Homo sapiens: one gene and its partners. The protein of the gene in region 1 purifies or fractionates together with the protein of each later gene. This does not show direct contact. Each region holds a gene or a part of one and is shown in the gene's direction. Other genes may lie near its edges. The genes, in order: CA9, G3BP2, HADHA, HEATR3, IPO7, TNPO1 and XPO5.

Evidence for each region.
Region 2: the proteins of CA9 (region 1) and G3BP2 purify together in Homo sapiens (affinity purification with mass spectrometry, with the first as the bait; one study listed by BioGRID). This does not show direct contact.
Region 3: the proteins of CA9 (region 1) and HADHA purify together in Homo sapiens (affinity purification with mass spectrometry, with the first as the bait; one study listed by BioGRID). This does not show direct contact.
Region 4: the proteins of CA9 (region 1) and HEATR3 purify together in Homo sapiens (affinity purification with mass spectrometry, with the first as the bait; one study listed by BioGRID). This does not show direct contact.
Region 5: the proteins of CA9 (region 1) and IPO7 purify together in Homo sapiens (affinity purification with mass spectrometry, with the first as the bait; one study listed by BioGRID). This does not show direct contact.
Region 6: the proteins of CA9 (region 1) and TNPO1 purify together in Homo sapiens (affinity purification with western blotting; one study listed by BioGRID). This does not show direct contact.
Region 7: the proteins of CA9 (region 1) and XPO5 purify together in Homo sapiens (affinity purification with mass spectrometry, with the first as the bait; one study listed by BioGRID). This does not show direct contact.

What each region holds. Positions count from the first base shown.
Region 1 is NC_000009.12:35,676,928-35,679,293, forward strand, and holds part of CA9 (carbonic anhydrase 9 precursor), read left to right. Parts: intron 1-749; coding exon of another isoform or gene 750-764; exon of another isoform or gene 765-862; coding exon 863-929; intron 930-2,257; coding exon 2,258-2,366. UniProt on the Homo sapiens protein: Catalyzes the interconversion between carbon dioxide and water and the dissociated ions of carbonic acid (i.e. bicarbonate and hydrogen ions).
Region 2 is NC_000004.12:75,666,912-75,670,411, reverse strand, and holds part of G3BP2 (ras GTPase-activating protein-binding protein 2), read left to right. Parts: intron 1-3,500.
Region 3 is NC_000002.12:26,199,633-26,203,132, reverse strand, and holds part of HADHA (trifunctional enzyme subunit alpha, mitochondrial precursor), read left to right. Parts: exon of another isoform or gene 1-813; coding exon of another isoform or gene 814-900; intron 901-1,812; coding exon 1,813-1,984; intron 1,985-3,500. UniProt on the Homo sapiens protein: Mitochondrial trifunctional enzyme catalyzes the last three of the four reactions of the mitochondrial beta-oxidation pathway.
Region 4 is NC_000016.10:50,082,970-50,086,469, forward strand, and holds part of HEATR3 (HEAT repeat-containing protein 3), read left to right. Parts: intron 1-967; coding exon 968-1,058; intron 1,059-1,138; exon of another isoform or gene 1,139-1,164; coding exon 1,165-1,322; intron 1,323-1,599; coding exon 1,600-1,682; intron 1,683-3,245; coding exon 3,246-3,382; intron 3,383-3,500. UniProt on the Homo sapiens protein: Plays a role in ribosome biogenesis and in nuclear import of the 60S ribosomal protein L5/large ribosomal subunit protein uL18 (RPL5). Required for proper erythrocyte maturation.
Region 5 is NC_000011.10:9,387,652-9,391,151, forward strand, and holds part of IPO7 (importin-7), read left to right. Parts: intron 1-3,500. UniProt on the Homo sapiens protein: Functions in nuclear protein import, either by acting as autonomous nuclear transport receptor or as an adapter-like protein in association with the importin-beta subunit KPNB1.
Region 6 is NC_000005.10:72,823,161-72,826,660, forward strand, and holds part of TNPO1 (transportin-1), read left to right. Parts: intron 1-3,500. UniProt on the Homo sapiens protein: Functions in nuclear protein import as nuclear transport receptor. Serves as receptor for nuclear localization signals (NLS) in cargo substrates.
Region 7 is NC_000006.12:43,527,539-43,531,038, reverse strand, and holds part of XPO5 (exportin-5), read left to right. Parts: intron 1-214; coding exon 215-351; intron 352-1,662; exon of another isoform or gene 1,663-1,683; coding exon of another isoform or gene 1,684-1,790; intron 1,791-2,113; coding exon 2,114-2,211; intron 2,212-2,833; coding exon 2,834-2,880; intron 2,881-3,307; coding exon 3,308-3,405; intron 3,406-3,500. UniProt on the Homo sapiens protein: Mediates the nuclear export of proteins bearing a double-stranded RNA binding domain (dsRBD) and double-stranded RNAs (cargos). XPO5 in the nucleus binds cooperatively to the RNA and to the GTPase Ran in its active GTP-bound form.

The sequences.
Region 1 (2,366 bases):
CTGCAACTTCCGCCTCCCGGGTTCAAGGGATTCTCCTGCCTCAGCTTCCTGAGTAGCTGGGGTTACAGGTGTGTGCCACCATGCCCAGCTAATTTTTTTTTGTATTTTTAGTAGACAGGGTTTCACCATGTTGGTCAGGCTGGTCTCAAACTCCTGGCCTCAAGTGATCCGCCTGACTCAGCCTACCAAAGTGCTGATTACAAGTGTGAGCCACCGTGCCCAGCCACACTCACTGATTCTTTAATGCCAGCCACACAGCACAAAGTTCAGAGAAATGCCTCCATCATAGCATGTCAATATGTTCATACTCTTAGGTTCATAATGTTCTTAACATTAGGTTCATAAGCAAAATAAGAAAAAAGAATAATAAATAAAAGAAGTGGCATGTCAGGACCTCACCTGAAAAGCCAAACACAGAATCATGAAGGTGAATGCAGAGGTGACACCAACACAAAGGTGTATATATGGTTTCCTGTGGGGAGTATGTACGGAGGCAGCAGTGAGTGAGACTGCAAACGTCAGAAGGGCACGGGTCACTGAGAGCCTAGTATCCTAAGTAAAGTGGGCTCTCTCCCTCTCTCTCCAGCTTGTCATTGAAAACCAGTCCACCAAGCTTGTTGGTTCGCACAGCAAGAGTACATAGAGTTTGAAATAATACATAGGATTTTAAGAGGGAGACACTGTCTCTAAAAAAAAAAACAACAGCAACAACAAAAAGCAACAACCATTACAATTTTATGTTCCCTCAGCATTCTCAGAGCTGAGGAATGGGAGAGGTCTATGGGAACCCCCCTTCATGTTCCGGCCTTCAGCCATGGCCCTGGATACATGCACTCATCTGTCTTACAATGTCATCCCCCAGGAGGGCCCGGAAGAAAACAGTGCCTATGAGCAGTTGCTGTCTCGCTTGGAAGAAATCGCTGAGGAAGGTCAGTTTGTTGGTCTGGCCACTAATCTCTGTGGCCTAGTTCATAAAGAATCACCCTTTGGAGCTTCAGGTCTGAGGCTGGAGATGGGCTCCCTCCAGTGCAGGAGGGATTGAAGCATGAGCCAGCGCTCATCTTGATAATAACCATGAAGCTGACAGACACAGTTACCCGCAAACGGCTGCCTACAGATTGAAAACCAAGCAAAAACCGCCGGGCACGGTGGCTCACGCCTGTAATCCCAGCACTTTGGGAGGCCAAGGCAGGTGGATCACGAGGTCAAGAGATCAAGACCATCCTGGCCAACATGGTGAAACCCCATCTCTACTAAAAATACGAAAAAATAGCCAGGCGTGGTGGCGGGTGCCTGTAATCCCAGCTACTCGGGAGGCTGAGGCAGGAGAATGGCATGAACCCGGGAGGCAGAAGTTGCAGTGAGCCGAGATCGTGCCACTGCACTCCAGCCTGGGCAACAGAGCGAGACTCTTGTCTCAAAAAAAAAAAAAAAAAAGAAAACCAAGCAAAAACCAAAATGAGACAAAAAAAACAAGACCAAAAAATGGTGTTTGGAATTGTCAAGGTCAAGTCTGGAGAGCTAAACTTTTTCTGAGAACTGTTTATCTTTAATAAGCATCAAATATTTTAACTTTGTAAATACTTTTGTTGGAAATCGTTCTCTTCTTAGTCACTCTTGGGTCATTTTAAATCTCACTTACTCTACTAGACCTTTTAGGTTTCTGCTAGACTAGGTAGAACTCTGCCTTTGCATTTCTTGTGTCTGTTTTGTATAGTTATCAATATTCATATTTATTTACAAGTTATTCAGATCATTTTTTCTTTTCTTTTCTTTTTTTTTTTTTTTACATCTTTAGTAGAGACAGGGTTTCACCATATTGGCCAGGCTGCTCTCAAACTCCTGACCTTGTGATCCACCAGCCTCGGCCTCCCAAAGTGCTGGGATTCATTTTTTCTTTTTAATTTGCTCTGGGCTTAAACTTGTGGCCCAGCACTTTATGATGGTACACAGAGTTAAGAGTGTAGACTCAGACGGTCTTTCTTCTTTCCTTCTCTTCCTTCCTCCCTTCCCTCCCACCTTCCCTTCTCTCCTTCCTTTCTTTCTTCCTCTCTTGCTTCCTCAGGCCTCTTCCAGTTGCTCCAAAGCCCTGTACTTTTTTTTGAGTTACGTCTTATGGGAAGGGCCTGCACTTAGCGAAGAAGTGGTCTCAGAGTTGAGTTACCTTGGCTTCTGGGAGGTGAAACTGTATCCCTATACCCTGAAGCTTTAAGGGGGTGCAATGTAGATGAGACCCCAACATAGATCCTCTTCACAGGCTCAGAGACTCAGGTCCCAGGACTGGACATATCTGCACTCCTGCCCTCTGACTTCAGCCGCTACTTCCAATATGAGGGGTCTCTGACTACACCGCCCTGTGCCCAGGG
Region 2 (3,500 bases), on another chromosome or scaffold:
TTTCATTCAATGGTGTACCACAAAAGATTGAAGGTCATTTCTTTAAAAAGGTATAGTGTTCCTTAGATTGTTTAAGTTACTTCAAACAAAAACCATCTGGAATTTCAGAAAGTTCCAGTATTAATATGCATTTAGCTGTTGGAAATGGATATAGTCCATGGTTCAATTAAAATAAATAAACCTGACTAGTTTGAGCCCAGCTATGAGTGAGGGACTCCAGAGGGGAAAGGGGTAAGTATCCTATAGTGGAGATAAGCTGTGTCTTAGCACCCACATAACCTTTGGTAACAGTATCTGGTAAAGAGAACTGCCTCCTATTACTAGAGGTCTTATTCTTTTTATAATAACTAATACCAAGTACTTACAACTCAGCTCACTGCAACCTCCGCCCCCGGGTTCAAGCGATTCTCCTGCTTCAGCCTCCTGAGTAGCTGGGATTACAGGCGCCCGCCACTGCACACGGCTAACTTTTTTGTGTTTTTAGTAGAGATGGGTTTTGCCATGTTGGTCAGGCTGGTCTCGAACTCCTGACCTCAGGTGATCCACCCATCTCGGCCTCCCGAAGTGCTAGAATTACAGGCGTGAGCCACTGCACCCGGCCTCTTTTTCCTTTTGTAGTTTCTGGTACATACATAGTAGCCATAAAATAAATGTTGAAATGAATTTATTTTGTATAACCCATTGACTCAGCTTGTGGATGGGAATGAATGAAGTAAGACAAAGGCGCAGAGAGTGAAATTGCAGAGAATAATATTAGGTGATTAAAATATTTGTATAGAATTTGATACAGGGATGAGAAAGTATAGTAGGAGATAAATTTGAAAGGTTGGTTATGACATTGAATGTCAGACTGGATTTCTGTGTAGGGCCTTAGATGCCAAACTGAATGCAGGTGTTTGGATTTTACTCAGTACAGTATATACTACACGTGATACAGGGGCTTGAAAGACTTTTGAAGAATAAAAGGTCTGAACAGTGGGAGTGAAAAGGAGGGCACAAATTCCACCTTCTGAATTGTAAGGATTTCACAGTTTAAGTGGCAAAGCTAAAGGGGAGAAAGTCACGACTGAGCTTTCAAGTTGAGAAGATTATGACACTTTTAACAGAAATAAGGAAATAGCTTTCTTTGGTGCATGCGTGTATTGGGACATATGTGGGTCATGTCTAGGTGTTCAGTATGTGGTGACAAATGTAAAATTTGAACTTATGGTATAGACTAGATACACGTTTAGGTAGACATGAGACCAGAAGCTGAAATTGCCAGGTTAGAAGACAGAACCTTGAGAAATTCTGCGTTTGGATGAGAAGGAAAATTTGCCTTATAGAACTCTAGAAGAGTTAGGAGGAGGTAGTCAACATTGATAATGCAGATGGGTGGAGGATTGAGAAGTCATTCGATTATTGAGAAGAATTGTGATGTTTCCAGAGAATTGCATTCAAAGGAGAGCTGAGTTATAATATTTGAGAGGGGAATAGAAGATGAAGACAGGTGTACAGTTAGTAATTTAGGGCAGAGCATGATCAATAAACTGCTATGATAAAGGCCAAAAGTGCTTTAAGAGTTAATAGAGAAGAGTTATATTCTGTTGAGGAATTCAGTAGGAGTAGAAAGATTTTCAAGGGGACAGGATTTCTGCTGGGCCCAGATAAATGCATAGGGTTTCAATCATTGCAGATAGGAAGGTGTGAGATGAGTATTGGAGGAGAAGTCAAAAGTCCTGCTTCTTGTTAACAGACTTTTAGGATCTTAGTGTTGGAATGGCCTAATCTTACTTTTTTGGATGTATGGACTCTACTATGTTTGTGCCAAACCATTCAGTTAGTCTCTGGAATACCTGTAGTGACTGGCTACTTGTTAAGTAGCTCTATTTGATATTTGGACAACTCGCGTTATTCTTGTGTTATGTTTCACCCAAATCTACCTTCTTATAATTTCCATTCACTATATTCAATTAGCAATCAACTCATTTTAGATATTACATCTAAATTAATGTAGCCTAAGATTGATTGTTTTGGAGGCAGCCCCATTATAGTAGTGATTCACTGAACTTTAAATGGTAAACAAAAAACCTAAATGTTTCTTACCTAAAAGGTGACGTTTTAGTCAAAGTTTGAGGAAAGGAGAGTGATAACTTTGGTTTTTACGTTATTTTGAAACTGAGGAAATATAAGTTCATTGTAGGATAATGAAGCTCAATGTGACTTTCTTTTCTAATCTGCATGTATGTCTACCAATGCTCCACTCCCTCTCAGTGTGTATTATCTACCAATACTCCACTCTCTCTCAATGTGTATAATTAATAGATTCAGAAAATATGGTGACAAATATAGAGCAATTTTCCGTGAGAGCTGAAGTGCATGTGCTTCAGGAATTAGGCAAATGCAGAGGAAACATTTTAAGAAACAGGAATGAATAAAATATTCTGATGAAGATTCACTGGGATTTTAGGTGCGATAGGCAGAGTTGGAGAGTAAAAAGCCTCTAAACTATACTGGATAATGTTTTCGGTTTTTTGTTTTTTGAGACAGAGTTTCGCTCTTGTTGCCCAGGCTGAAGTGCAAGGGTGTGATCTCAGCTTACTGCAACCTTTGCCTCTGAGTTCAAGCAATTCTGCTGCCTTAGCCTCCTGAGTAGCTGGGACTATAGGCGCGTACCACCAGGCCTGGCTAATTTTTTGTATTTTTAGTAGAGACGGGCTTTCACTGTGTTAGCCAGGATGGTCTCGATCTCCTGACCTTGTGATCCTCCTGCCATTGCCTCCCAAAGTGCTGGGAAGTAGGCATGAGCCACTGCGCCTGGCCTTGGATAATGTTTTCATTTGACAAGTAAAAGACGGATTTGTTCATGAGAGAGCTTTGACTGTGTATAGAGCTAATGTATCAGATAAAATTTTACACTGTGCATTCCTGTGTGAGATTCTTCACATTTTCAGGTGTCATTGGAAGAAGTGGAGTGTGATATATTGTATTTAACTTTTTCTAAAAAGGTTGTTAGGTGAGGCTAACAACCACCTTATTGAAGATGGTAGTTATCTTTGAAGGTGCTAATCTAAGAACTTTCTAAAGATTTCTTTTTGTGTATAAGTATCCTTTAATCTTGGCTATCTTTTTTTTTTTTTTTTTAAACAGTGTCTCACTCCTGTTACCCAGGTTTGAGTGCGGTGGTGCCATCTTGGCTCGCTGCAGCCTTGACTTCCCGGGCTCAGGCATTCCTCCCACCTCAGCTTCCCGAGTAGCTGGAGCTACGCTTGCACACTACCACGCCCCGCTAATTTTTTGTATTTTTTAGTAGAGACGGGGTTTTGCCATGTTGCCTGGGCTGGTCTCAAACACCTGAGCTCAAGCGATTCACCCACTTTGGCCTCCCAAAATATTGGGATTACAGGTGTGAGCCACTGCACCAGGCCTTCTTGGCTATCTTTGTAGAACTGTATAGTCTTGTAGGCTTGACCGGGGATTTCTTCTCAATTTGTAAACTAGGAAATCGAGATCCAGTAAGG
Region 3 (3,500 bases), on another chromosome or scaffold:
GATTCTGACCAAAAAAATGATGTGTGCTAGATAGCAGCAGTGCCCTGAAACTAGCATGCAAGCATCCCAAACAGCATTCCATACCATCACCAAAGTAAGAAATTGTTGCTCTAAAATAGTTTCCTCCCCCAGTCTCTCTTGAATAGTGTCCTGGGTTCCCCTTTTCGTCTTAGAAACATCAGGTTCTGGCGAGTGCCGCTCACCACACTGCTGACTTGGGACAATAGTTCCTGTCCTCTCTTGGGAATAGTTTAATCAGGCATTAGAATTAGAGCAACTGATAATGTTTTGAATGCTGACAAGTATCTTGTTTGCTGACTGCTGTCATGATTGTCAAAAACAAAAGCTTTGAGCCCATACTTTTAAGACCTTATTTGATGTTTTTGTTTCTTTTGAGACAGTCTCACTCTATTACCGAGGCTAGAGCACAATGGTGCAATCTTGGCTCACTGCAACCTCTGCCTCCCGGGTTCAAGCGATTCTCATGCCTCAGCCTCACGAATAGCTGAGACTACAGGCATGCGCCACCATGCACAGCTGATTTTTGTTTTTCTTATAGAGACGGGATTTCACCATGTTGGTTAGGCTTGTCTTGAACTCCTGGCCTCAAGTGATCCGCCTGCTGCAGCCTCCCAAAGTGCTGGGATTACAGATGTGAGCCACCATGCCCAGCCCTTAAGACCTTCTTTGAATACTCCTTTGTATTTATCTTGTGGCCTTAATTTTGCTTTTGGTTAAGGAAATTAGTGAATGGGGTTTAGCTTCATTCTTCATTTAGAGGAAAACTGTAGGTAATTTATTCTGAAAGTGTGGTCAGACGGAATCTAAGAGAACCTGTTTCCCTTGGCGACGAAAAATAATCAGTTGAATGTCTGAATAACAGGAATCCTTTTCTGCTCCCTATGGGAAAAAAGAAACCTTGAGTTAATATTTTATGTAATCAGTGCAATGTGCTACTAGGTAATGAGTGGGAAGTAGATGGAGAATATAGGAAATAATGCTTGGTCTCTGTTCTTTAGAAGATTACAACCACAGGCTGGGCGCGGTGGCTCACGCCTATAATCCCAACACTTTGGGAGGCTGAGGCGGATGGAACACGAGGTCAGGAGTTCAAGACCAGCCTGGCCAAGATGGTGAAACCCCATCTCTACTAAAAAAAAAAAAAAAAAAATTAGCCAGGCGTGGTGGTGGGCGCCTGTAATCCCAGCTACTCAGGAGGCTGAGGCAGAGAATTGCTTGAACCCAGGAGACAAGAGGTTGCAGTGAGCTGAGATCACGCCACTGCACTCCAGCCTGGGCAACAGAGCGAGACTCCGTCTCAAAAAATAAATAAAAAAAAAAAAAGATTACAACTACAGAATAACATAAAATTATATATTTGCGATAAGCAAATATAAACCATGTGGTCTCAGACACACTTTGGCTGCTTCCCCTGTCATAGGTAGAGAATTACCAGAACTCCTCTTTTGTTTTGCCATTCTAGTATTCATGTTATTTACTCCTCTTGGCAAATTTAACTGGTTTAAGAGTGATTTAGTTTACGTAAATTGGGCATTTGGAGGCATTCTATGGTAGAAAGAATGTGTACTTGGGAGTTAACATGTCTTTGAATGCTAGCACCCTCCCTTATCAAGCTATTTGACCACAGGTCCCTCTAAGACTAAACAACTTGAAAGTCTCCCTCAAAATGGGAGTAATAGAATAACTACCTCACAGAGTTGGTGAAAAACACAGGTGTGCTCTGGCCCATGGACATTCAATAAACGTTAGTTTCCTTTTCTTCCCATCTAACTAGGAATGTGTTTTTTCTAGATTGAATGACAAAGTGAAGAAGAAAGCTCTAACATCATTTGAAAGGGATTCCATCTTCAGCAACTTGACTGGGCAGCTTGATTACCAAGGTTTTGAAAAGGCCGACATGGTGATTGAAGCTGTGTTTGAGGACCTTAGTCTTAAGCACAGAGTGCTAAAGGAAGTAGAAGCGGTAAGCAAGGGGCTGTTGTACTTGAATCCTAGTGTAGTGAACAGAAAACACAGAGATTTTTTTTTTAAAGGAGCTATAGGAAACTCATGATTGCTTTTATAAAAAGGACTATTCAAAGGCTGGGCATGGTGGCTCACGCCTATAATCCCAGTAGTTTGGGAGGCTGAGGTGGGCGGATCACGAGGTAAGGAGTTCGAGACCAGACTGGCCGATATGATGAAACCCCATCTCTACTAGAAAATACAAAAATTAGCCGGGCATGGTGGCACACACCTGTAGTCCCAGCTATTTGGGAGGCTGAAGCAGGAGAATCACTGGAACCTGGGAGGCAGAGGTTGCAGTGAGCCGAGATCACGCCACTGCACTCCAGTCTGGGTGACAGAGCGAGACTCCATCTCCAAAAAAAAAAAAAAGACTTTTTGTTATCAAACGTTAAGTTTTTATGTGTGCTCATGCACACTGCATATGTTATAAAGGTCAAATCTAAATTCTAAAGGAAGAAAATGAGGGTGCGTTCACCTTATTCATGTAGGAGCTCTGTCACCCAAACATACAGATAACCTCACAGAGTATAGCCAGATGCTTTGAGATTTTTTGGTTAGCCGAAAGCCAAAAACAAACCTCTTCAGGTCTAAGGCTGCAAAGGAAATAGGGAAGACAGTTCGTCCAGATGCTTGTTCTGTGGAAATGCTGCTTTGGCCCAGCTCCCAAATGTTCTCCATAGGCACTTCTTGAGATGGGCTGACATGAACAAAACAAGTACTTGAAGTGGGGAGTAGGAAGAGTAAGCCCCGAGAAGGAGTAATAGCAGTAATTCAGGGATGAGGTAGGACCAAGGCCTAAGCTAGTCTACAGTTGGATAAACAGAATGTGGGTTACTGAAAGGTGAACATGAAATGATTCTGACTTGGCAACATGCTGGATATAATGAGCAGTGAGCTCATTACAAAAAATAAGAGTACCACAGAGCAAAACTCCGTCTCAAAATAAATAAATAAACAAACAAACAAACATTATCTTCTCTTATTGCCCATAGAGCTAACAAAACCCATTCCTTGGACAATCTTCCACAGGCATGATCTCTAGACCACCCCGTTTCGGTTGTCCTCTCTAGTATCTTCCTCATGTCTCCGTGTTCTACTGCTGTGTTTACAACTATCTTTTCACAATTCTGCAATCTGGGCAGGGCTCTGCAGAGACAGTGGTGCTTAAGTCCATTGATTTCAAGGCTGGGGTCACTCCTGGGCTGCATTCCGCAGGAAGCTCGGTTGGGGCACCTCACTGCTTCCCCCACATCTCTCATAGTCCATCCTCACTTAGTCGTCTCACCACAACTTCTTTGTAGCGTGGCTGCAGGCTTCCAAGAGAACAAAAGCAGAAGCTACTGAGCTTCCTAAGTTTATTGTCAGGAAGAAAAAAAGATAAATAATTTAAAAAATAAAAAAAGAGGCTACCGGGCCCCACAGGTCTAGGTAGGCCTGGAACTGGCAGGGTAACTTCTGCTGCATTGTGTTGA
Region 4 (3,500 bases), on another chromosome or scaffold:
ACAAAAATTAAAAAAATTAGCCAGGCATGGTGGCATGCACCTGTAGCCCTAGCTACTCAGAGGCTGCGGCAAGAGGATTGCTTGAGTCCAGGAATTTGAGGCTGCAGTGAGCTATGAACGTGCCACTGCACTCCAGCCTAGGCAACAGAGTGAGACTCTGTCTCTAAGGGGGAAAAAAAAAGACAATTGAAAACTGAAGTTTGGAAATATTCAAATAGTAAAATATACATTATTTTTAGCTCATGTACTGTTTTGGAATATCAGTATGGTTATTTCACTTTCCATAGACAATTTGATAATTAAGGTTATATAAATTTATATTACCCATTTTAAGAAATGTTGGTTGATAATGTTAAGTTTAAGTTGGCGTTATATATTTTCAGAGAAAAAAAAAGCTTCCTTCTTTCTTTAGTCTTAGAGAAATGCTTTATTATAGTCTTTACAGAAAGGCAGGAAGCAAGTCTGTCTGCTCCATAGCAAGTTCTACAGGTCACATAAGGGCTCGTTAGTAGTGTGTGTTAGCGCAGCCATTCCAAGAAAGACATCTAAGCTAAGCATCTAAAAGCAGGTTTGGTGTTTCTAAGTGCCTGGTGTCTGAAATGAACTCTTGTTTAAATCTTAGTATGCCCAGCTACTTCTTGACACAGTAGATAAGTTTCAGGGTGAATTCTGTTCAGAATTCCTGAATATTTGTCTGTTCTCTCCAGCTAACTAAGTGACGCTTGGGGAATAGCCATGCAGATAGATGGAAACCCAGTTAACGGGGGCATGCTCCACTGTACCAAGAGGAATTATAATGCTCGTTTGTACTTCTGGCACTTCATGACTTTTCTTTTACCTACCCCATTCCCCGTGTGCTCTATTCCAAGCGCAAAAATCTTCTAGTAGGCTTTCACTAAGGAAATTCCCCAAAAACATTTTCCCAACCATTGAGAGTTGGTCATTTACTTTTTTTTTTTTTTTTAAGCCCACTGACAAGGAACTGAGAGAGACTATAGCATTGCTGACAGCCCAACAGACTGCTCTGGAAATTATTGTCAACATGTGCTGCAATGAAGGTTTGTTAACATTTACATTTAGACATTTTCCCCCTGAGCCAAGAGGGAAACTCCCGTGGAGATTTTCTTAACTATTCCAGTTCTGCGTGGTTTGCCCGCTTCCCAGATCCCTCTGATGACGAATGGGAAGAGCTTTCTAGCAGTGATGAAAGTGACGCATTTATGGAGAATTCCTTCAGTGAGTGCGGGGGACAGCTGTTTTCTCCCCTCTGCCTCTCCCATGAAGTTCACACGGCTCTCACCAACTACCTCATCCCAAAGAAGGTAATCCATTTTCATTCTAGGCTTACCGTGGAGCATGGGAAAGGCTTAAGCAAGGTATTCATTTTGTGTACAAAAGAAGCAAGCTCACACTTCCAGGTTGTAGATGGTGGTAAGATCTGAGACAAAGCTGAGCCTAACAGTACTGGAAATAGGCGAAAAGGTCATTCTATATGAAGCCTAACCATTTCACTTAGGAGTAATATGTTGGAATTATGTAAGGGAATCGTGTTAAATGACTACTCTTTAACCTTTGCTTTACTGCCTCTTTTAAATCTAGATTTTTGAGAAAACTGCCTTTCCAAACAGCATTGCAGTTGACCTATGTTCTAGGAACCCTACTTGGAAACCTTTGATTAGAAAGTAAGAACTCTTCTGCTTTCAAAAACATTTGTCATTATTTTATTTTATGAAATGATGGGCTATTAAATAGAAGGTGCTGACTCCCCCTAGGACCCAGAAGTTTTGTTCCTGGGTATATATACCAGAAAAATATGTGCCCACATGCCCTAGAATACATGTATATGAGAGTGTTCATAGCAGTGTGTGTCACAGTTGCCCCAACCCATAAACAAACGTGTTGTCCATCAGAGTTAGAATGGTAAATAAATTTTGACAAAATCACGCAGTACAATACATGCAGCAGTAAAAGGGATCTGAATTAGAGCTACTCACAACTCGGATGGAACTTACATTGTTGAACCAAAAAAGCGAGACATAAAAGAATACACACACTGTGATTCAGTTTTTACAAAGTTGAGAAACAGGCAACATTGAACTATTTTGTTCAGGGATGCATACCTTGGTGATAAACCTATTAAAAAAAAAAAGAGGCAAGGAAATGTTTACCATAGAAGTCTGTATGGTGCTTACCTGTAGGTGTCAGGGAGGTGGGATATTATATGGAAGAGATACAGGGGCTTTCAGGGTCCAGCAGTGTTAATTTCTTTCCCAGGTGCATGGGTTTTGGTTTCATAGACTGTTTGTTAAACTCTCTATGTATGTTGTGTACTTAACTGTATATATGTCACATTTCACAATTAAAAATAATTTTAGGCTGGGCATGGTGGCTCACACCTATAATCCCAGGACTCTGGGAGGCCAAGGTAGGAGGATCACTTGAGGCCAGGAGTTTGAAACCAGCCTGGGCAGCATAGCAAGACCCCATCTCTACAAAGGAAAAAAAAATACAAAAATTAGCCTGGCATAGTGGCACTCAGCTGTAGTCCTAGCTACTTAGGAGGCTGAAGTGGGAGGATTGCTTGAGCTCAGCAGTCTAAGGCTGTAGTGAGCTATGATGGTGACACTGTACTCCAGCCTGGGAAACAGAATGAGACCCTGTCTGAAGAAAATTATAATTTTAAGGATGCTACCCTACATAGAAATTTTTCTAAAACATATTCCTCATGACTCATGAATGAGTTGTGTATCAGAGGCCGTGAATATTCAAGCAGTTTGATTTGGCAGATTAACAGTTCACCTTATAATTCTAGCACTTTGGAAGGTACAGGCAGGAGGATTGTTTGAGGCCAAGAGTTCCAGAGCAGCCTGGGCAACATAGCAAGACCCCTATCTACAAAAAATAAAAAACTTAGCCAGGTGTGGTTGCATGCACATGTAATCCTGCTCCTTAGGAGGCTGAGGCAGGAGGATCACTTGTGCTCAGGAGGTTGAGGCTACAGCGAGCTGTGATCACACCACTGCACTCCAGCCTGGGCAACAGAGTAAGACCCTGTCTAAAAAATGATGATAAATTTTAGAAAACACAAAAAACAGTTCACCTTGTGATTCTTTGCTAACTGCCATAGATACCTTGTATTTACAGATATTTCCAGTCAGAACGTGAAGCTTAGGCTAAAAGTTAATACTGAATTCTGATGGGCAACTTCTGGAGAATCAGATGGCATTGTTTCACTTCCTTTCCAGAATGAACACTATTCAGTGCAGAGCCCTCTTCTGTCTCCAGAGTCTTGTGTCCCTCCTGGATGTGGAGCACCTGGGAGGAGCCGCAGCCCTTCAGACGCTTGCACAGCATCTGTCACAGCTGCTTTTTTCTCAACCAGGTATTTAGACTTTATTGCGAAAGACTACGCAGACGGAACAGAATTTTGAAGGGGCAGGAATTTGGATTTTGTAAATGTATATTGTTTGTCATCCAATGTGCAGAAACCTTTCCCAGAC
Region 5 (3,500 bases), on another chromosome or scaffold:
AGAAACCCCATCTCTACTAAGAATACAAAATTAGCTGGGCGCGGTGGCGCATGCTTGTAATCCCAGCTACTCAGGAGGCTGAGGCAGAAGAATCGCTTGAACCTGGGAGGCGGAGGTTGCGGTGAGCTGAGATCGTGCCACTGCACTCCAGCCTGGGCAACAGAGTGAGACTCCATCTCAAAAAAATTAATTAATTAATTAAATTTAAAACATTGGCTGGGCATGGTGGCTCATGCCTGGAATTCCAGCACTTTGGGAGTCCGAGGCGGGCGGATCACCTGAGGTTGGGAGTTCGAGACCAGCCTGACCAACATGGAGAAACCCCGTCTCTACTAAAAATACAAAATTAGCTGGGCGTGGTGGCGCATGCCTGTAATCCCAGCTACTAGGGAGGCTGAGGCAGGAGAATCGCTTGAACCCGGGAGGTGGAGGTTGCGGTGAGCCGAGATCGTACCATTGCACTCCAGCCTGAGCAACAAGAGCGAAACTGCGTCTCAAAAAATAAAAATAAAAATAAATAAATAAATAAATTTTTTTTTTTTTGAGACGGAGTCTTGCTCTTGTTGCCCAGGCTGGAGTGCAGTGGCGCAATATGAGCCCACCGCAACTTCTGCCTCCTGGGTTCAAGCAATTCTCCTGCCTCAGCCTCCCAAGTAGCTGGGATTACAGGCGTTTGCCACCACACCTGGCTAATTCTGTATTTTTAGCAGAGATGGGGTTTTACCATGTTGGCCAGGCTGGTCTCCAACTCCTGACCTTGTGATCCGCCCACCTCGGCCTCCCAAAGTGCTGGGATTACAGGAATGAGCCACCATGCCCAGCCTATTTATTTATATTTATTTTTTGAGACAGGGTCTTGCTCCATCACCCAGGCTGGAGTGCAGTGGCACCATCATGGCTCACTGCAGCCTCTCCCTCTCGGGCTCAAGCAACACTCCCACTTCAGCCTCCCAGGTAGCTGAGACTACGGGGATGTGCCACTATGCCCAATTAATTTTTGTATTTTTTGTAGAGACAAGGTTTCACCGTGTTGCCCAGGCTTATTTTTAATTTTTTCAGAGCTAAGGCCTTGCTATGTTACCCAGGCTGGAGTGCAGTGGGCTCCACTGCACTACATAGTACACTACAGCCTAGAACTCTTGGCCTCAAGCAGCGTCCTCCCATCTGAGCCTCCCAGGTGGCTGGGACTGCAGACACGTGCTACCACGCCTGGCCTAATTTTACTTAACTTTTCTTCTCCCCACTATAATTTTAAGTTTCTTGAGGTCATGAATTGTTATTTTTTGTTATTGTTATTCCTTGATTTCCCAGTAATAGGCTTTATGACTGACTTCCTGTTATAATATTAATAAATAACAGTATAGGCTTTAGCTCTTTTATTTATTTTTTAAAATTTATTATTATTATTATTAGTATTTTTGTGGCAGGTTCTCACTCGGTTGCCCAGGCTAGAGTGCGGTGGCATGATCTTGGCTCACTGTAGCCTCCAATCCCAGGTTCAAGCGATTCTCAGTCCTCAGCCTCTTGAGTAACTGAGACTACAGGTGCCACCACATCTGGCCAATTTTTGTATTTTTAGTAGAGACGGGGTTTCGCCACATTGCCCAGGCTGGTCTCGAACTCCTGACCTTAAGTGATCCACTCACCTTGGCCTCCCAAAGTGCTGAGATTACAGGCATGAGCCACCACACCAGCCGGTGTTTTTAAATATAATGCCAGGAAGATTTTTATTAAATACTCATTCCGAAGGATAATTCCCAGTCTGGTTCATGTAACAGCAAATGTCTGTGTGCTAGGCACTGAGCTAAGTAGTTAGATGCAGAGAAATTTATGATCACTGCCTTTCTAGAGCTCCATAATCACCACGTCACTGGCCCATACAATACATGTGGTCAGTACTATAATAAAGCTACATGTAAGTTTTGGATGACGAAACTATTAGATCTGATTTTGGCTAAGGTGGATATGATCTCCGCATCAATAGTCTTTCCCCTGTTATATTCGCAGTCAAGAAAAATGCTGTAAGTGGAATTAGAGGGTTTACCCAGGAGACATTTAAACTCTTAGTTCCTAAGCTCAATATGGTATATAATGGTTATATATGTATATACACCTTTTTTTTTTTTTGAGTGGAGTTTCGCTCTTTTTGCCCAGGCTAGAGTGCATTGGTGCCATCCGGCTCACTGCAACCTCCATCTCCCGGGTTCAGGCAATTCTGCCTCAGCCTCCCGAGTAGCTGGGATTAAAGGAATGCACCACCACACACGGCTAATTTTTGTGTTTTTAGTAGAGACGGGGTTTCACCATGTTGGCCAGCCTGGTCTTGAACTCCTCACTGCAGGTGATTGCCCACCTCAGCCTCCCAAAGTCTTGGGATTACAGGCGTGAGCCACTGCGCCTGGCCTAATTTTATATTTTTAGTAGAGACGGGGTTTCGCCATGTTGGCCAGGCTGGTCTCGAACTCCTGACCTCAGGTGATCCGTCCGTCTTGGCCTCCCAAAGTGCTGGGATTACAGGCCTGAGCCACCGTGCCCGGCCTAATGGTTTTATATGTACAGGCAGCAGTGCTACTTTCTCACTTGCTTTATATGAAAAAGTGATCTTGCTTTTGGTAAGTTTCTTGATATTTTGTGTGTGTGTGTGTTTTTTTTTTTTTAACTCACACTACCCTGGATCACTTTTGGGATTGTCACAAAAGGTTAACTATTACTGCTGTATGTGATATACCTTACTTATAAATGGTTCATTTGATTCCATTTTATTAAAAGTATTTAATGAAAATCTTAGGTCTGGAAAAGTGTAAAATAATGGCATATTTGTAAGATAATTTGGAATGTTTAGAAATTAAGCAAAATATTTTAGGAAGACCAGAGTAGCCTGTAGTTTAGATAACATTCCTTCACCAGGAATATTTTGAAGTACTGTTCTGAATTTGGGAGAAGGAAAGTCCCTGGATACTTCGGCTGTTAGATAGCAAGTTATTCAATGATATAGCTTGTTAAAGATCTGAAAGAGTTTGGGCGCAGTGGCTCACGCCTGTAATCCCAGCACTTTGGGAGGTAAAAGCAGGAAGAGGATCGCTCGTCCAGGAGTTTGAGACCAGCCTGGGCAACATACAAAAAAAATTTTTTTTTTTAGCCAGAGCCTCGCTCTGTCACCCAGGCTGGAATGCAGTGGCGCAGTCTTGGTTCACTGCAACCTCTGCCTTCTGGGTTCAAGCAATTCTCCTGCCTCAGCCTCCCGAGTAGCTGGGACTGCAGGCGCCCGCCACCACTCCTGGCTAATTTTTGTATTTTTGGTAGAGATGGGGTTTCACCTTGTTGGCCAGGCTGGTCTTGAACTCCTGACCTCAGGTGATCCACCCGCCTCTGCCTCCCAAAGTGTTGGGATTACAGGCATGAATCACAGCGCCCGGCTGCTAAATGATTTCTAATAAAAAAGTTTTTTTTTAAAGTTCCTAGTTGGAGGTCAGATGCGGTGGCTCACGCCTGTAATCCAG
Region 6 (3,500 bases), on another chromosome or scaffold:
TAACTTTCCTCCCACTGTTTCTAGAGGTGGGAAAGATATCTGTCATGAGTCTTCTTACTTCTTTCAGACTATGCTTCCTCCTTTCTCCCTATAATCTTCAGTTTTGAATTATGTCATAAAGGCCCACTGTCCCACTCTCCAGTCTTTATATTGAAATTGATAAGAATGTACATAACTGATCCACCCAAACCCTGGCCTCTCACTTCCTAGACCTCTCTTCCAGTGCTCTTCCCATCTATGCTATATCAGCCACTCATTCCACAGTGATACCCTCGTGCACTGTCAATAACTGCAGTCCCTCCATAGTTGCCATTTCATGTGTTCTGCTCTGTTACCGCTTCTTCCTATTTTTGCAGCTCACTCCTAGTGCCTCAGCCCTAACCATCTTCTGACCCCAATGGAATCTCCAACCCATTGATCCTATTACTGCTCCCCTGCCCCTTACCCTCTTGATGTTTTCACTCCCTTTTATGTGGAATTTACTCATCTAAATTTCATGATTAATCAGTTTAATTACTTCTTTGGATCCCTTTCCTTGCTCTTTGCTTGTTTGGCAAAACCAGAGCTCTAGTTAAAACAAACTCTGGGGTTTTTTTTGCACTTGCCCCTATGTAACTGAGCATGGCCAGAAAAAAAACCACACAACCACACATGGCCACAAACCTTAAGTGGGTCTGTAATGCTGCCTGATGGTTGTACTGTATTTTCCTAGTCTGCTTACTCTTCCACTCCTCTAAATGACTATTTCATATCTTATTTTCCCCAAACCTTCTATATCTCTTTTCCCATCCTCACCTTCAGCTCATGACCTTGCTTCCCACTTTGCTGAGAAAATTGAAGTAATCAGAACTTCCATAGATTGCCACCACTCCACATACCTCTGGCACTCTATTTATGAAAGGGTCTGCGCAGCATCTGCTCAGTACATGGCTGTCTTCCTGCCTGTTACCTTAGATTAACTGTTCATATTCTTGTCTGCCTTTGTACTAGGCCCCATTCTCTCTCATCTGCTCAAGGACTTTGCTTCAGGTTCTCTTCTTCCACATCATCAATTTTGTTCTTTTTATTGAATCATTTCTATCAGCAAACAGATATGCTATTATTTCTCCCCTCTTAGGAAAAAATCTTGTCCCACTTCACCACATTACCCCAATTTTTTGTTTCCTTTGGGAGCAGTATTTCTCAAAATAGTTGTCTGTACTTGCTATTGCCAAGTTCTCTCCTCTAGTACTCTGTTAAACCCACTCTAGTGAGGTCTTTGTCTGCACCACTCCCACAGAAACAGCTCCTCTGGTTCTTCAGTAGCCCCCATATTGTTAAATGCCCTGTGTTATTGATTCTCATCCTATGTGACCTGTCAGCAGCATTTGACACAGCTGTTTGCTTCCCTTAGCCTTGAAACCATTTCTTCTTTGCCTTCGAGGACGTCACACGTTCCTGGTTATCTGCTGTCTCAGTGCTGGTCCTTGTAATTCTCCTTTTCCTTTATTTTCACTGACCTCTTAATGTTGGAGAGCCCCAAGTCTTAATTGTTTGTTTATTTGTTTCTATCTATGCTCACTTTATTGGTAATCTCATTTAGTCTCATGGCTTGAAATACCATGTAAATATCAACAATACCCAAATTTAGATCTTTAGCCCCCTCCTCAATTCCAGTCTTACATGTGCAACTACCTATTCAACATCTCCCCTAAATGTTTAATAATAGACATCAAAGTCAGCATATCCAAAACTAAACTCCTAAACTTTCTCCCCAATGCCTGCTTTACCCACAGACTCTCCCATTTCTGTCAGTGGCAACTCCGTCCTCCTGTAGCTCAGACCAAAATCTTGGCCTTATTTTTTTACTTCACTTTTTCTTTTACTCTTCAGATCTGTTCTTTCAGGACAATCTGTTTTCTGTATCGTCAAAATACATCGAAAATCCTATCATGCCTCACTGCTTCCTCCACTGCCACCACCCTTGTCCAAGCCACTACCATCACATCTTGTTGGATTACTGAAATAGGTTACTACCTGGTCTGCCCCTTCTGCCCTATCCCCTTCCAACAGTATTTTCTCAATACAGTAGCCAGAATAAACCTTTCGCAAATTAAGACAGTCCCTGTCACTTCTCCTGCAATGGCTCCTGTTACGATCTGAATGTATGTGTCCTCCCAAACTGTTGAAATCCTAACTCCCAAGGTATTAGGAAATGGGAGTGGAGTCCTCATGAATAGGATTGGTGCCCTTAAAAAGTCCTAGAGGCCAGGTGCGGTGGCTTATGTCCGTAATCCCAGCACTTTGGGAGGCTGAGGTGGGCGGATCATGAGGTCAGGAGATCGAGACCATCCTGGCTAAAACCGTGAAACCCTGTCTCTACTAAAAATACAAAAAATTAGCCGGGCGTGGTGGCACGTGCCTGTAGTCCCAGCTACTCGGGAGGCTGAGGCAGGAGAATCGCTTGAACCCAGGAGGCGGAAGTTGCAGTGAGCTGAGGTCACGCCACTGCACTCCAGCCTGGGTGACAGGGTGAGACTCTGTCTCAAAACAAAACAAAACTCTAGAGAGATCCCTTGCCCTTTGTCTCTTGAGGACACAGCAAGAAGTCTGTGAGCTAGAAAGCAGCCCTCACCAGATACTGAATATGCCTTGCTCTTGGACTTCCCATCCTACAGAATGGTAAGCAATCAATTTCTGTCATTTATAAGCTATCTCATTTATGGTATTTTGTTATAGCAACCCGAATGGACTAAGACATTCCCTTTCATTCACTCAGAGAAAAGCTGGTCCTGTGAGGCTCTACATGATCTGCCCAATCCACTCCACTTTCTCCTTACCTTCCTGACCTCATTTACTGTTACCACTGTTCTCCCCTTACTCACTGGCCTGCTTGCTATGTCTGTCCTGTTCCTACTTTAGGACTCTTGCTGGCTCCACTCTCTGAAATGTACTTCTTCCACATATCTGCTTGGCTCAATGGACTTACCTCCCAGTCTTTGCTCAGATCTTACCATCTATGAATACCCTGTTTAATACTATATTCTATCCTGCCCTTCCCCACCCACTCTTATCCTGGACTCCTTTTTATTTTTTGCATAGCACATACAACCTTCTAACATACTATATTAGGGGTCAGCAAGCCACAGCTCCATGAGCTTCTGCCCTGTTTTTGTACATCCTATAAGCAAAAGAATGGTTTTTACATTTTTAAACGGTTATGAAACAAAGCAAAAAATACGTGACATATATATGTGGCCTGCAAAGCCTAAAATATTTACTCTCTGTCCCTTTTCAAAAAAAGTTTACACTATGTATTTTATTCTGTTTATTGTCCTCCTCCTCCTGCAAGAATACAAGCTCCAAGAGGGCAAGATCTTTGTTTTATTTTTTGCTGTATCTGCAAGATACAGATACAGAGCCTAGAATGTAGTAGACACTTAGTAAGTATTTGTTAAATGAATTGTTCGTGATGGTGCAAAATGGTAATTATGTTAAATGTTCACCAATAGACCTATATA
Region 7 (3,500 bases), on another chromosome or scaffold:
TCCACATTAAATAGTAATGAAAGCTACTGCTGATCTCGGCCACCAACATCTGTCTTTAAAAAGATGCTGTATCTATAAGTTCTCTTAAGTAAATACAACTGCTCTTCTGGCTGAAAAACCTTATTGTAGGCTAGAAATGAAATTCATGGGACAGGGCTGGCAGTAACAGATGTTGGATTTGTCATTTTCAATGCTCTTTTTTTCCCCTTTACAGTTTTCATATCCTAGGGAAGGCAGGCCCTTCCATGCAGCAAGACTTCTATACTGTGGAGGACCTTGCTACCCAGCTTCTCAGCTCAGCCTTTGTCAACTTGAACAATATTCCTGACTACCGACTCAGACCCATGCTTCATATCCTTTCAAAAGTCTCTACATAACCCAAAAGGTCAGAAAATTAGAGAGAGAAACAAAACAGGTCACAGCAACCAGAGGGAAGAGGCAGAACTGGAAGGAAGAGATGAGATTATGTATCTAAGTGTATCATGTCATTAAAAACACTGGCAGATTGCAGGGAAAACATGAAGGCAGTCCAGATGGCCATAAACTTTTCCTTAGGGGTAAATTTTTACCTTCCCCCTTCTCGGAATTATTACAGATAAAACTTTTTTTTTTTTTTGAGACAGTCTTGCTCACTCTGTTGCACAGGCTGGAGTGCAGTGGTATGATCTCGGCTCACAGCTTCTGCCTCTCAGGTTCAAGCTATTCTTGTGCCTCAGCCTCCTAACTAGCTGTGATTACAGGTGTGCACCATCACGCCCAGCTGATTTTTATTCCTATTTTTTGAGACAGAGTTTTGCTCTATTGCCCAGGCTGGAGTGCAGTGGCATGATCTTGTCTTACTGCAACTTCCACCTCCTGGGTTCAAGTGATTCATGTGCCTCAGCCTCCCAAGTAGCTGGGATTACAGGCGCATGCTACTACGCCCAGCTAATTTTTTTGTATTTTTAGTAGAGACAGGTTTTCGCCATGTTGGCCAGGCTGGTCTCAAACTCCTGACCTCAAGTAATCCGCCTGCCTCAGCCTCCCAAAGTGCTGGGGTTACAGGTGTGAGCCACCATGCCCAGCTGTGAAAGATAAAACTTTTATCCCTTTTCTGTATTTTTAGAAGCACTTTTTTTTTTTTTTTTTTGAGACAGGGTCTCAGTGTTACCCAGGCAGGAATGCAGTGGTGCCATCAAAGCTCAGTGCAGGCTCAAGTGATCCTCCCACCTCAGCTTCCTGAAGAGCCTGGACTGGACCACAGATGCGCACCACCACACCCAGCTAGTTTTTATTATTATTTGTAGAGATGGGTCTGTATTATGTTCCCCAGGGTGGTCTCAAACTCCTGGCTCAAGTAATTCTCCTGCCTCAGCCTCCAAAGTGCTAGAATTACAGGCCTGAGCCACCACACCCAGCCAGAAGCAGCAGTTTTAACACTTCATTCTCATTCAGACCCTTATTAATAGTTGAATCTCTTTCTTTCTTTTCTTTTTTTTTTTTTTTGAGACGGAGTCTTGCTCTGTTGCCCAGGCTGGAGTGCAGTGGCGTGATCTCGGCTCACTGCAAGCTTCGCCTCCCAGGTTCACACCATTCTCTTGCCTTAGCTTCTCGAGTAGCTGGGACTACAGGCGCTCGCCCCCATGCCCGACTAATTTTTTTTTTTTTTTTTTTTTTTTTTAGTAGAGACGGGGTTTCACCATGTTAGCCAGGATGGTCTCGCTCTCTTGACCCCGTGATCCACTCGCCTTGGCCTCCCAAAGTGCTGGGATTACAGGTGTGAGCCACCGCAGCCAGCAAATCTTTCTTACCTGAAATTATAAGGAGAATGGTGAAGGAGAGTTTGTTACAAGGATGTCCTCCTTCCTATTTTTTTATTCCTACTTTTTGGGCCAGTGACCATAATGTGCAGCCTGACGGAAATGCAGCTAAACTAAGAGTATAATGGAATTCAATATCAGTGCCATTTAGGATTTTAGGAAAAGAACTTTAAGATTTTTTCACTGTTAACACAGGATATTTTTGACATCTGGCAAATCCTTTAGGGATTGATTCTGCCCAGGGGTGCAACCCACCACCTGGCAGGTGAGAGATGTGTGCCTATGCACTAAAATTTCTTAACTTGTTGCAGCACGTGTCTTTGTAAAGCCTCTGGTGCTCTTCTGTCCCCCAGAGCACTATGAAGCCCTGGTATCCCCCATCCTCGGACCTCTTTTCACCTACCTCCATATGGTAAGAGATAAGTCAGGAACAGGAAGCAAAGAGTACTATTAAGGCCTCTGGCCATTTCTGAGCTTTGCAAGTCAGGAGCTCCTAGAAGTGTTGTCTACTAGCCCTGCCAGACTGGCTGGGCAGAGCTTCTACCCCAGCTGACTATCCTTGCTGTAGGATCGAGCAGCCCCCAAAGAACTAAACTGATTTAATTGCCACAAGACAGCTTCAGTTGCAGATTCTGCTCCTAACCTCCTGTTAACTGAGGAGAGGTAAAAAGAGGAATGCTTGCTCACAGACCCTTGCCAGGAATGCTGGGTCTGTTATCCTTACTCTAGAATTAAGCAGGGGGACCAGCTGGGTGGAGAACAGGTATGTCTAGAGACCCAGGAATTCTAAAAATGTTGTTAATTCTTTCCAAGCAAAGAGGTGTTTGAGATACCACCTTCATCAGGGATGTGGGATAGGTTACAGAAACCATAGATGTTTTTTTTAACCTTGTGGTGTGGAGTCTACAGAAGTTGTCATTGATGCCTAGAATCATCCTTGGCTAATTTTAATCATGAAGTGGACTTGACTTTAGATATTATGTGTTCCAATCCTTTCCCCAATTCTAGCATTTATTTCCTTTGTGTTTTCCCAGAGGCTTTCTCAGAAATGGCAAGTTATCAACCAAAGGAGCCTGCTGTGGTAAGGGATACCTACCCACTCTTCTTGGTGGATGAACTGGCAGCCAGGTTTGGGGTGGGAAAAGGAAGCGGGCAGGGATTCTGCTGTCCCAGGGTAGAAGAGCAGTAGGTTGTAGTCATTCTCAGCCTAGGTGATACATGGCTTGTCTGGACAGGCTGTTACCAGCAGGCAGACTCTGAGATCCAGCCTTCATAGGGGCTACTGTTACCTTACTCACTTATTTTAATTCTGTAATGTCTATCCAACTGGACAGAGTCACTAGTAATAATGTCCTTCAGTGGATCACTGCTGTCCATTCCCAACTTTTGCATAAAACGAAGACCCAAAGGAGAAGAAAGTGGTCAGAGAGAGTCTGATTAGGGTCGCTGCTTTCCTTGTCCTTCCTTTTCTGCACTCCTGTGGAACTTGGCCCCCTGGTTTTCTGCAGTGGAGAAGATGAGGCTGCAGATGAAAACCCAGAGTCTCAAGAGATGCTGGAGGAGCAACTGGTGAGGATGTTAACCCGAGAAGTCATGGACCTAATCAGTAAGTGGCATGTCGAAACTGGGGCTATAGAGGATTTTCCTGGAAGAAGAGCTGGTCGCTCAGCCAACTCCATGAAGGCCTGACTAATGCAAAGG